Regions from separate parts of the Homo sapiens genome. Here region 1 is linked to region 2. Evidence: fine-mapped expression QTL. A gene starts in region 2. The other region holds a variant in brackets. All regions are shown on one strand. Distances are from middle to middle.

Region 1 (5,379 bases), 21 kb after region 2:
GGCTCATGCCTGTAACCCCAGTACTTTGGGAGGCCAAGGTGGGCGGATCACGTGAGGTCAGGAGTTTGAGACCAGACTGGCTAACGTGGAGAAACCCCATCTCTACTAAAAATAAAAAAATTAGCTGGGCGTGGTGGCGGGCGCCCGTAGTCCCAGCTACTTGGGAGGCCGAGGCAGGAGAATGGCGTGAACCTGGGAGGCGGAGCTTGCAGTGGGCCGAGATCACGCCACTGCACTCCAACCTGGGCGACAGAGCAGGACTCTATCTAAAAAAAACAACAACTAGCAGAGCATAGTGGCACGTGCCTGCAGTCCCAGCTACTCAGTAGTCTGAGGTGGGAGGATCACTTGAACCTAGGAGATGGAGGTAATATTGAGCTATGATCGTGCCATTGCACTCCATCCAGCCTGGGTGACAGAGCATGGGAGCCTGCCTATAGAACAAACAAAAAAAAAGAAATGATCATAATATGCATGAAACACAAAGGTGATTATTCGAGGCTTTCCTAAGCAAGAAATCATTCAGTTCCAAACAAAGTGCCAAATATAGAGTAAAAGTACTGGAAAACTTGCAGTTTTTTGTGGACTTTGATCTGTGGTATTCAAGAAAATGTTTGAACTGTGAATTTGTTACATTTTTACTTAATTTTCATTGTAAATTATTATTTAGTTTATCATCAGGATTACCCAAAATGATGTTAAATGTTTTTAATTTACTAACATCAGTGGTTCTTTTTTTCTTTCTTTCTTTTTTTTTTTTTTTTTTTTGAGACGGAGTCTCTGTTGCCCAGGCTGGAGGCTCACTGCAGCCTCTGCCTCCCGGGTTCAAGTGATTGTCCTGCCCCAGCCTCCTGAGTAGCTGGGATTACAGGCATGCACCACCATGCCCAGCTAATTTTTGTATTTTTAGTAGAGACGGGGTTTCAACACGTTTGCCAGGCTGGTCTCGAACTCCTCATGTCAGGCGATCCACCCGCCTCGGCTTCCCAAAGTGCTGGGGTTACAGGCGTGAGCCACCATGTGCCTGGCCAGTGGTTCATTTCTTATATTCAAGTTAAAATTTGTTTCGATGTTGGAACAAATGCCTTTAACCCTTGGTTTGCGTCATCCAGAGCCTTCATATATAAATTACCTGTCTCTGATTCTGCTGAGACATTAAAAAGAAAAAATTGCCTGTCTCATGAAATTATATTAAAGCATTAAAAAATAATTTATAGCCGGGCATGGTGGCTTACTCCTGTAATCCCAGCACGTTGGGAGGCCAAGGCGGGTGGATCACCTAAGGTCAGGAATTTGAGACCAGCCTGGCCAACATGGTGAAACCCCGTCTCTACTAAAAATACAAAAATTAGTCAGGCATGGTGGGACGTGCCTGTAATCCCAGCTACTTGGGAGACTGAGGCAGGAAACTCACCTGAATCCAGGAGGTGGAGGTTGCACTGAGCCGAGATCGCGCCAATGCACTCCAGCCTGGGCAACAGAGTGAGACTGTGTCAAAAAAAATAATAAAAATAAAATGAAATTAATAATAATTTATAGGCCAGGTGCGGTTGCTCACTCCTGTAATCCCAGCACTTTGGGAGGCCGAGGCAGGAGGATCATTTGAGCACAGGAGTTTGAGACCAGCCTGGCAACATGGTGAAACTCCCTCTCTACTAAAAATACAAAAGTTAGCTGGGCATGGTGGTGCACGCCTGTGATCCCAGCTTCTCAGAAGGCTGAGGCAGGAGAATCGTTTGTACCTGGGAGGCAGAGATTGCCGTGAGCTGAGATTCCACCACTGCACTGCAGCCTGGGCAACAGAGCAAGACTCTATGTCTCAAAACAAAAGAAAAATTATAAACTTTTAAACTTAAACATTGCTAATTTAGACTTAATAGATCAAGGCATGAAATCATTTTGGATAAAACTTCATGTTGTGAACTTGACTTTGATATTATCTTGGCAAAATTCTGTTCTAAAATTTTTCACTTTATTTCTTCAGAGAAGAAAGAGTGAATATGAAGGTTCCCAGAGATATGGATGATGCCAAGGCTCTAGGAAAAGTTTTATCCAAATACAAGGACACCTTTTATGTTCAAGTACTTGTAGCTTATTTTGCTACATATATTTTGTATCCTTTTAACTGAAAAAATGTTTTCTAATTTTGTTCAAGAAAAAGTGTAAAAGGTCTGCTCTTCATTTATACATAACTATTTTCCTTTTAAAATTTGTTATTGCAGTGTGACAATATTAAATAATTGAAAAATTAAAATGGAAAAAAATTATCACTTTAATCCTATTTGCTGAACTAATTGTTTTTATGTCTGAATATTTATTAGAAGTTCTTTTGTATTCTGCTTTTTTCACTTACCAAACATTTTCCTTTATTGCATATTATTAAGATGTTTATTTTATGGGTTTGATTTATAATTGTATTCATTAACTGATGATACTAGTTTATATAATTATTTTGAATTAGTAGTCACCATAGTATTTTTATAATTGTTCTGTTAGGTTTGGAGGTATAATTTGTTGTTAATTTTTATAGATATGTATTATGAATCTCCTTTGTTCATGTTTTTTTCTTGCATTGTTTCTTTTGTAAAAATTCTTAAGATACTTATTCAAAGGAATGAATGTTTTTTACAATTTTTGATATATATTTTATAGAAATATATTACATTTTAACTAGTCAGGAAAATAGCTTTATTTCAAACTGCTTAGCTGTGGGTGCTTAATTTTGCATATTGTGGAGTTTAATTTTCATTTCTGATTTGTTAATATCTTTTATTCTTATCCAAACTGTTTTCCAGATCTTCTCAGTTAATGAAAGACGTAATTTACTTCTTGATGTTGTAAAAGTAATCATCCTTTTTAAACCAACTTTTTTTTTTTTTTTTTGAGATGGAGTTTTGCTCTTGTTACACAGGCTGGAGGCACAATCTCTGGTCACTGCAACCTCCACCTCCTAGGTTCAAGCGATTCTCCAGTCTCAGCCTCCCAAGTAGCTGGGATTGCAGGCGCCTGCCGCCATACTTGGTTAATTTTTGTATTTTCAGTAGAGACGGAGTTTCACCATGTTGGCCAGGGTCGTCTGGAACCCCTGACCTCAGGTGATCTGCCCATCTCAGCCTCCCAAAGTGCTGGGATTACAGGTGAGAGCCACTGTGCCCGGCTTTTTTTTTTTTTTTTTTTTTTTTTTTT[TTTTTG/G]AGACAGGTTCTCCCCCTGTCACCCAGGCTGGAGTGCAGTGGCATGATCATGGCTCACTGCAGCCTCAGCCTCCTGGGCTCAAGTGATCCTCCCACCTCAGCCTCCCGAGTAGCTGGAACCACAGGCACACCCAGTTAAATTTGGGATTTATTTGTAGATGCCAGGTTTTGCTATGTTGTCTGGGCTGGTGTTGAACTCCTGAGCTCCTCAGCCTCCCAAAGTGCTGGGATTTCAGTCATGAGCCGCCACGCCTGACAACACTGGGATATTATATAGCTATTTAAAAAGAATCAGAAGTAGCCAGGTATGGTGGCTCATGCCTGCAACACCAGCACTTTGGGAGCCCGAGGCGGGTGAATCACGTGAGGTCAGGGGTTCAGACCAGCCTGGCCAACATAGTGAAACGCCATCTTTACTAAAAATACAAAAATTAGCTGGGCGTGGTGATTGCATGCCTGTAATCCCAACTACTCAGGAGGCTGAGGCAGGAGGATCACCTGAACCCAGGAGGTGGAGGTTGCAGTGAGCTGAGATCGTGCCACTGCACTCCAGCCTTGGTGACAGCAAGATTCCATCCCCAAAAAATAAAAATAACAAAAATAAAAAGAATCAGAAGTATCCATATGTTGTTGAGGTATTAACTCACAATATACAGATAAGTGAAAGAACAAAGGGCAAAATAGTACACAAATATGCTGTGTTTTATCTAAGAAGGGGATAATATGAGTACACTCATATACATAAGTATCTTGTTATATTTTTCTTAAAAAACTAATTGGCCGGGTGTAGTGGCTCATTCCTGTAATCCCAGCACTTTGGGAGGCTTCAGCAGGAGGATTGCGTGAGGCCAGTGGTTCGAGACTGGCTTGGGCAATGTAGCTAGACCCAGTTTCTACGAGAAATACAAAAATTAGCTGGATGTCTTGGTACATGCCTGTAGTCCTAGCTACTTGGGAGGCTGAGGTGGGAAGATCACCTGAGCCCAGGGAAGTTGAGGCTACAGCGAAGCATTTAGCCTCTGCACTCCAGCCTAGGTGACAGTGAGACTGTATCTCAAATAAATAAACCAGTAAAAATGTTTACCTGTAGGGAGAGAGATAAAATGGTAGGACTGAAACTTTTCTTAGCGTAGGTTTGACTTGAGAACCAAGTAAATGTTTTACATAATTACAAAATCAAAATGAAAAAAGAGAATAGCAGGAATCTTAAGAATCAAAAGCAACCTCACACTCATTAGGATGGCTATCATGAAAATAACAAGTGTTGGCAAGGATGTGGAGAAATTGGAACTCTTGAGCACTGTTGGTGGGAATGCAAAATGATGCAGCTACTATGGAAAATAGTATGGCAGTTCCTCAAAAATTAAGAATAGTATTATCAGGGCCGGGTGTGGTGGCTCACACCTATAATCCCAGCACTTTGGGAGACCGAGGCAGGCTGATCACCTGAGTTTGGGAGTTCAAGACCAGCCTGACCAACATGAAGAAATCCCGTCTCTTCATGTATTTTTTTGTAGCGATGGGATTTCATCATGTTGCCCAGGCTGGTCTCGAACTGGAACTCTTGGGCTCAAGTGATCCTCCCACCTCAGCCTCCCAAGGTGCTGGGATTACAGGTGTGAGTCACCAGGCCTAGCCAAAAATCTTAAAACTGTTTTTAGTCATCATATTGTTAGTAGTAATAATGTTGTAAAATATTTAAATATGTGGAAACGTTTTAGATTATTAATACTAATGCATAGTATATATTTTATACATTTACTTTATGTTTCATAGTATATAAAGCACAAATAGGCAACTATGTTGGTGTTATCAAGAACCAAGATTTTTCAGTGTAAGAGAAGAGAAATCTAAACAAAGTTAAGCTCAAGTCACATTCCCATTTAAAAGGAAGCATAGTTTTGACTACTAGTATAAGATAAAGGATAGAACATAAACTACCCTAAGTATCCAATAGGCAAAATTCAATAAATGGTAAATTCTACAAATGATCTGGTTTCTTCAGTAAATTGAAAGAAAGAAAAAATAAAGACCCTATGCTTAAGTGATCCTTTGAGCAAATACTTTGTGTGGACTTCTAGATTCTGATCAGACTAGTCTTTAGGACAATAAGGAATTATAGTTAATTTCTTGAAGTCTGACAATGGTATCATATTTATGTTAAAAAGAAAAGGAGGCCAGGCACGGT
Region 2 (5,379 bases):
CTAAAAATACAAAATTAGCCGGGCGTGGTAGCACATGTCTGTAATCCCAGCTACTTGGGAGGCTGAGGCAGGAAAATCGCTTGAACTGGGAGGCGGAGGTTTCCGCGAGCCAAGATCATGCCATTGCACTCCAGCGTGGCAATAAGAGTGAAACTCCATCTCAAAAAAAAAAAAAATTTTGTCTGGAATGACTATGTATATATTCATGTAATTAAAGTAATAAAAGTTTAGAGATAGTTCTTCTCATACATAATCTTATATCTGGTATCTTCTTTTTGTCTCCAGTACACTATGCTAGGTCAGGCCAGGATTATTGCAGTAATCTCCTAACTTCTCTTTCTGCTGTTGATTTGGCACACTTCCATAAGGCGGTCAGAATAAGCTTTGAAAATTCAAATCTTTTTTTTGAGACGGAGTTTCACACTTGTTGCCCTGGCTGGAGTGCAATGGCACGATCCCAGCTCACTGGAACCTCTACCTCCCTGGTTCAAGCGATTCTCCTACCTCAGCCTCCCGGGTAGCTGGGATTACAGGCGCCCGCTGCCACGCCCAGCTTTTTTTTTTTTTTTTTTTTTTTTTTTTTTTTTTTTGAGATGGAGTCCTGCTCTGTCACCCAGGCTGGAGTGCAGTGTCGCGATCTCGGCTCAGTGCAAGCTCTGCCTCCTGGGTTCACACCATTCTCCTGCCTCAGCCTCCTGAGTAGCTGGGATTACAGGCGCCTGCCACCACGCCCGGATAATTCTTTGTATTTTTAGTAGAGACGGGGTTTCACCATATTAGCCAGGATGGTCTTGATCTCCCCACCTCGTGATCCGCCCACCTCGGCCTCCCAAAGTGCTGGGATTACAGGCGTGAGCCACCACACCCGGCCACACCCAGCTAATTTTTTGTACTTTTAGTAGAGACGGGTTTTCAAACTGGTCTTGAACTCCTGACCTCAGGTGATCCAACCATCTCAGCCTCCCAAAGTGCTGGGATTACAGGGGTGAGCCAATGTGCCCGGCCAAAAATACAAATCTTACTAAGTCCCTCTCTGGTTAAATATCTTTGAGGATTAAGTTCAAACTTTTAGCAGTTTGTGATAAGGTCCTGGTCTCATATCTTTCGTAGCATTTCTTTCCATTCTCCCACCCTTTGCTTGAAGCTTTTTTTCTAATATAAGCAGTAGCTTCTAGCCTTTGCAAAAGCTATTTTCTCTGCTTTCAACTTTGTTAATTCCTATTCATCCTCTAAAAATCAGTTTTAATCCTGCTTCCTGGGAGACTTTACAGCCCCACTGTAATTTAGATATTCCTCTCTTCTGCTATTGCAATCTGCGCACCCCTCAGTCACTCTTATCACACTGCACTGAGGTTGTTCATCTTTTCCTAATTTTTTGGAATTTCCTAAGTTTTGGAGTTGGCTTTCCCACTGCGCACTCAGATGTCTTAAGCACATTTAATTTTTTCTTCTGTGTGTTGATAATTCATATTCTTTGCCCATTTTTCTGTTGAGTTGTGCTTTCCTTACTGATTTGTAGTAATTCTTATGTGTCAAATACTTCTCAGTGTTTGTTTTTAGTTTTTGTTGTACTTCAATTTTTAATGTTTGCATAGTAAAATATATAAAATGTTTTCTTTTTTTTTTTTTTGACTTGAACTCCCGACCTCAAGGTGATCCGCCCACCTTGGTCTCCCAAAGTGCTGAAATTACAGGTGTAAGCCATGGCACCTGGCCCATAAATATAATTTCCTAAGATTGAAAATTTATTCGGCTGGGCACCATCTCAAAAAAAAAAATTATTCAACAAATTCATTGAATGGCCACTTAGGTATTGGCACTCTGTCAGCTACCGGGGATACAATGGTGATCAAAAAGACAAAGCCCAGCTGGGAGCCATAGCATGGAGCCTGTAGTCCCAGCTACTCAGAGGGCTGATGCTTGAGGATCCCTTGAGTCCAGAAGTTCAGATCCAGCCTGGACAATATAGTGAGATTCCCATCACTTAAAAAAACAAAAAACAAAAAGACAAAGCCCCTGCCTTAAAGCTTATATTCTAAAGGTGGAGGCAGACAATAAACAAGTAAACAAATAGTTCACAGAATTAATTGCTTTTAATGACTATGAAGGAAATAAAATGGGAGCCAGAAGTAGGCAAAGGATGTGTACATAAAACAGTTCAATTGAATGGGTTTCCCATAATTTACTTAACCATTTTTATTTAGTGTTGGATTTTTATATTGCTTTTAGTTTTTCACTGTTATACTAATACAGAGGAATTATTTATGTTTATTTTCATGGAATAATTTCCTACAAATGTAATTACTGAATAGAAACAATCAGGATTTTTTTTTTTTTTTTTTGGGACGGAGTCTTGCTTTGTGGTCTATGCTGGAGTGCAGCGGTGCAATTTCTCACCGCAACCTCAGCCTCCGGGGTTCAAGCGATTCTCCTGACTCACACTCTCGAGTAGCTGGGATTACAAGCCATCATGTCCAGCTCATTTTTGTATTTTTAGCAGAGACGGGGTCTCATCTCACCATTTTGGCCAGTCTGGCCTCACACTCCTGGTCTCAAATGATCCGCCCGCCTTGGCCTCCCAAAGTGTTGGGATTACAGGCTTGAGCCACCGCGACCGGCCTCTAAGTTGCTTTCAAGAGGTAACCACGGTGAGTAAGCTGAATGTGCTCTGAGGGGTAGAAGCAGAAAAAGTTACCTGTGGAAAAGGCATGTTTCCGCTTAGCTTAGGGATAAGCTAAATGTAGAGCTGACTTGGGTTTAGTAGTAAGGGGCAGCAGCTAATGCAAAACCGTTAGCTTTGGGAACAGGACAACCTGGATTCTAAGCCCATTTTTGCCATCCTGTGATCTTCACAGGTTGTACGTAGCCCTCTCTGAGCCTTAGTTTCCTGAAATTCAGGTAGGTTTTGCTCAACCTTTGTATTTCCCACCATCTTTTAGATCAAGCACTCTCTGGCGCCTCCAAATTGAAGACAGCAGCTGCGGAATTGATGTAATGGGCTGAATCAGCCTCAGCCGCGAAATGCCGACTAATCACAGGCACCTCCGGCGGCCTGGACAAAAGGTTTGAAGTCCCTGGGACCGCACTTCCGGGTAATTAAGGCTACGCTTTAGACGCCAGGGCCAGCGAGTCGCAGCCGGGTGACTCGAGTGCCGCGACTGCGCATGCTCTCGCCCCAGCGCCCGGCGGCCACCTCTTTCCCGCGGGCGGGCCGGGGCGGGGCACTGAAGGGGGCGGTCCAGGACCCTGACTTGTCTCGCGGTTACTGGGCCGGCGCGAGCACGCGAGGCTCGGGGGCGGCACGGGGCGGGGTTTAGCCTGTGGTGGGCGCTGCGGGTGTTTGCAGGAGGTTGCAGTACTCGCTGGGCTGAGGTCGTCTCGGGTGAGGAGGTCGCGCCGGAAGTGGCTCTAGCCGTGGCGCTTCGGCGTAGTAAGGAGCCTGCAACAGAGTTTTGTTGTTTAGGGGGCGCGGCACCGCACCGCTCCCTTCACCTTGCAGCAGCCATGGCGAAAGGCAGAGTCGCCGAACGATCGCAGTTGGGCGCTCACCACACGACCCCCGTGGGGGACGGGGCAGCGGGGACGCGGGGTCTCGCGGCGCCTGGCAGCAGAGACCACCAGAAGGGTGAGTGGGCCCGGGGAGCAGAGCTGGGGGTGGCCCGAGGCTTCTGTGTGTCGGGTGGGGAAAAGGACCCCCGCTATTCTCGGAGAGTCGCGGGGAAAGAGGGGGGCCTGCTGGCGCCGCGGCGGGAGCAGAGACCGTGGGGGAGTTGGGCTTGGGCGCTCGCGCAGCACAAGGCCGGACGCCGAGTAGGTGCGTTGTAAATGCTGTTTGAGTAGAATTCATTTAAAAGAAGGGATGACACTGGCTTGTTGACGCTCAGGTAGATTGTAAGGTTGATGATAACGACGCTAGGCAGAGCTGGAAGGAGCTGTACTGTGGCATTCGCTGCGTTGTTTTTACAGATGAAGAAACTGAGGCCCAGTGTGGGTATATGACTTATAAAGTCATAAAGCCAGATCAGTGAAGTAGTAGTTAGGAGCGAGGACTTAATACTTCCAGGTGGCAGTACACCTGGGCTTGAGTCCCTGCCCTACTGTTTACTTGGAACCTTGGACTTGGTAACTTTCAAAAAAAGCTCAGTGTCTGAACTGTGAAATGGGGATAATAATAATATCTACTTAATAGGTGGTGCGTGGGTTAAACGAAATAATTCACGTAAAAGATTTAGAGCAATGCTTGGATATGAAGTGGGGGCTAAATAAATATTAGCAATTACTTAGTTACAGCTAAGGTCACTCATTCTAAAGTTTATTTCCCCACTACATCATCCTGACATTTCTCACGGCTTTATTTTTGGTTTTTGTTTTCTCTTTATTCCTACTGCCTCTATAATTGCAGAATCTCACGGCTTTAAATATTGTTTTAAGGAAAAAACTGTACGTAGAAACTAAATACTTTGATTCCGTGTTGGCCTGGAATCGTTCTTTAAATGATTTTAAAGCTCATAAACTTAAAGTGATCCTAACAAGTTTGTCTGTAGCTCACATAGGTGTGTTCCACCACCAGTGATGGCTAGGAGAACTTCTAAGAGTATGTAGTAGAAAATGTTAATGTATTTTCAAATAATTTAAAATGTCTCCAACAGTCTAATTTGGCTCTGTCAGCCTTATGTTTTTGGGTATTTTTCCAGCTTATATACACTGGATCCAGGTGACTTCATATAATTTCAAAAACTGAGAAATGAATCGTTGTTAATGTATAAATCAGCTCTGAATAAAAGAAAGATTGTTTTGAAGACTCTACTACTGAGGGTGACAATATTCCAAGGTCTGGGTTTCCTGAAAAAGTGTTCCAGATAGGGCATCCCTAAAAATTGACATCTCATTTGAGGTAGCAGCCAGTTGTATTCATGATTTTTACCTAAAGCTATTCAAAAAATAAAACCTTGAAACTTCCAAAGTGCTCTTACTTTTTAATCTTATTTTATCATTACAACAAAACATTCAACACAATTATTCTTTTTTTTTTTTTTTTTTTTGAGACGGAGTCTCGGTCTGTCACCCAGGCTGGAGTGCAGTGGCGCAATCTTGGCTCACTGCAAGCTCCGCCTCCTGGGTTCACGCCATTCTCCTGCCTCAGCCTCCCGAGTAGCTGGGACTACAGGCGCCCACCACCACGCCGGGCTAATTTTTGTATTTTTAGTAGAGATGGGGTTTCACCTTGTTAGCCAGGATGGTCTCGATCTCCTGACCTGTTGATCCGCCCGCCTCGGCCTCCCAAAGTGCTGGGATTACAGGCGTGAGCCACCACGCCTGGCCTACAATTATTCTTATGATGCTGTCCCATGACATCTATAGATCACAAATCTATAGGAA

Which allele goes with the higher level. Alleles are on the strand shown, and positions count from the first base shown. SD is a standard deviation of normalised expression in the study named.
In carriers of allele G in region 1, the expression in naive CD4 T cells of the gene that starts at base 3,353 in region 2 tends to be lower than with TTTTTG alone (large effect, 1.5 SD a copy in Schmiedel 2018).

What was found. PIP is the estimated chance that this variant, and not a neighbour inherited with it, causes the effect.
Region 1: its variant is the best candidate, but not a certain one, in a credible set for the expression of TMEM41B in naive CD4 T cells (Schmiedel 2018, PIP 0.75).

Annotation. Positions count from the first base shown.
Region 1 is chr11:9,291,993-9,297,371 of GRCh38, reverse strand. TMEM41B (transmembrane protein 41B) reads left to right here. Exons shown (of 7, transcript NM_015012.4): 3 at 1,985-2,113. Among named protein-coding and RNA genes, the nearest start is that of TRL-CAA5-1, 19 kb to the right of the region's middle. The variant TTTTTG/G (reference allele first, on the strand shown) is at 3,187.
Region 2 is chr11:9,312,567-9,317,945 of GRCh38, reverse strand. TMEM41B (transmembrane protein 41B) reads left to right here and starts at 3,353. Exons shown (of 7, transcript NM_015012.4): 1 at 3,353-3,625. The coding sequence starts at 3,505. RefSeq lists a silencer at 3,014-3,363 and enhancers at 3,129-3,644, 3,645-4,162.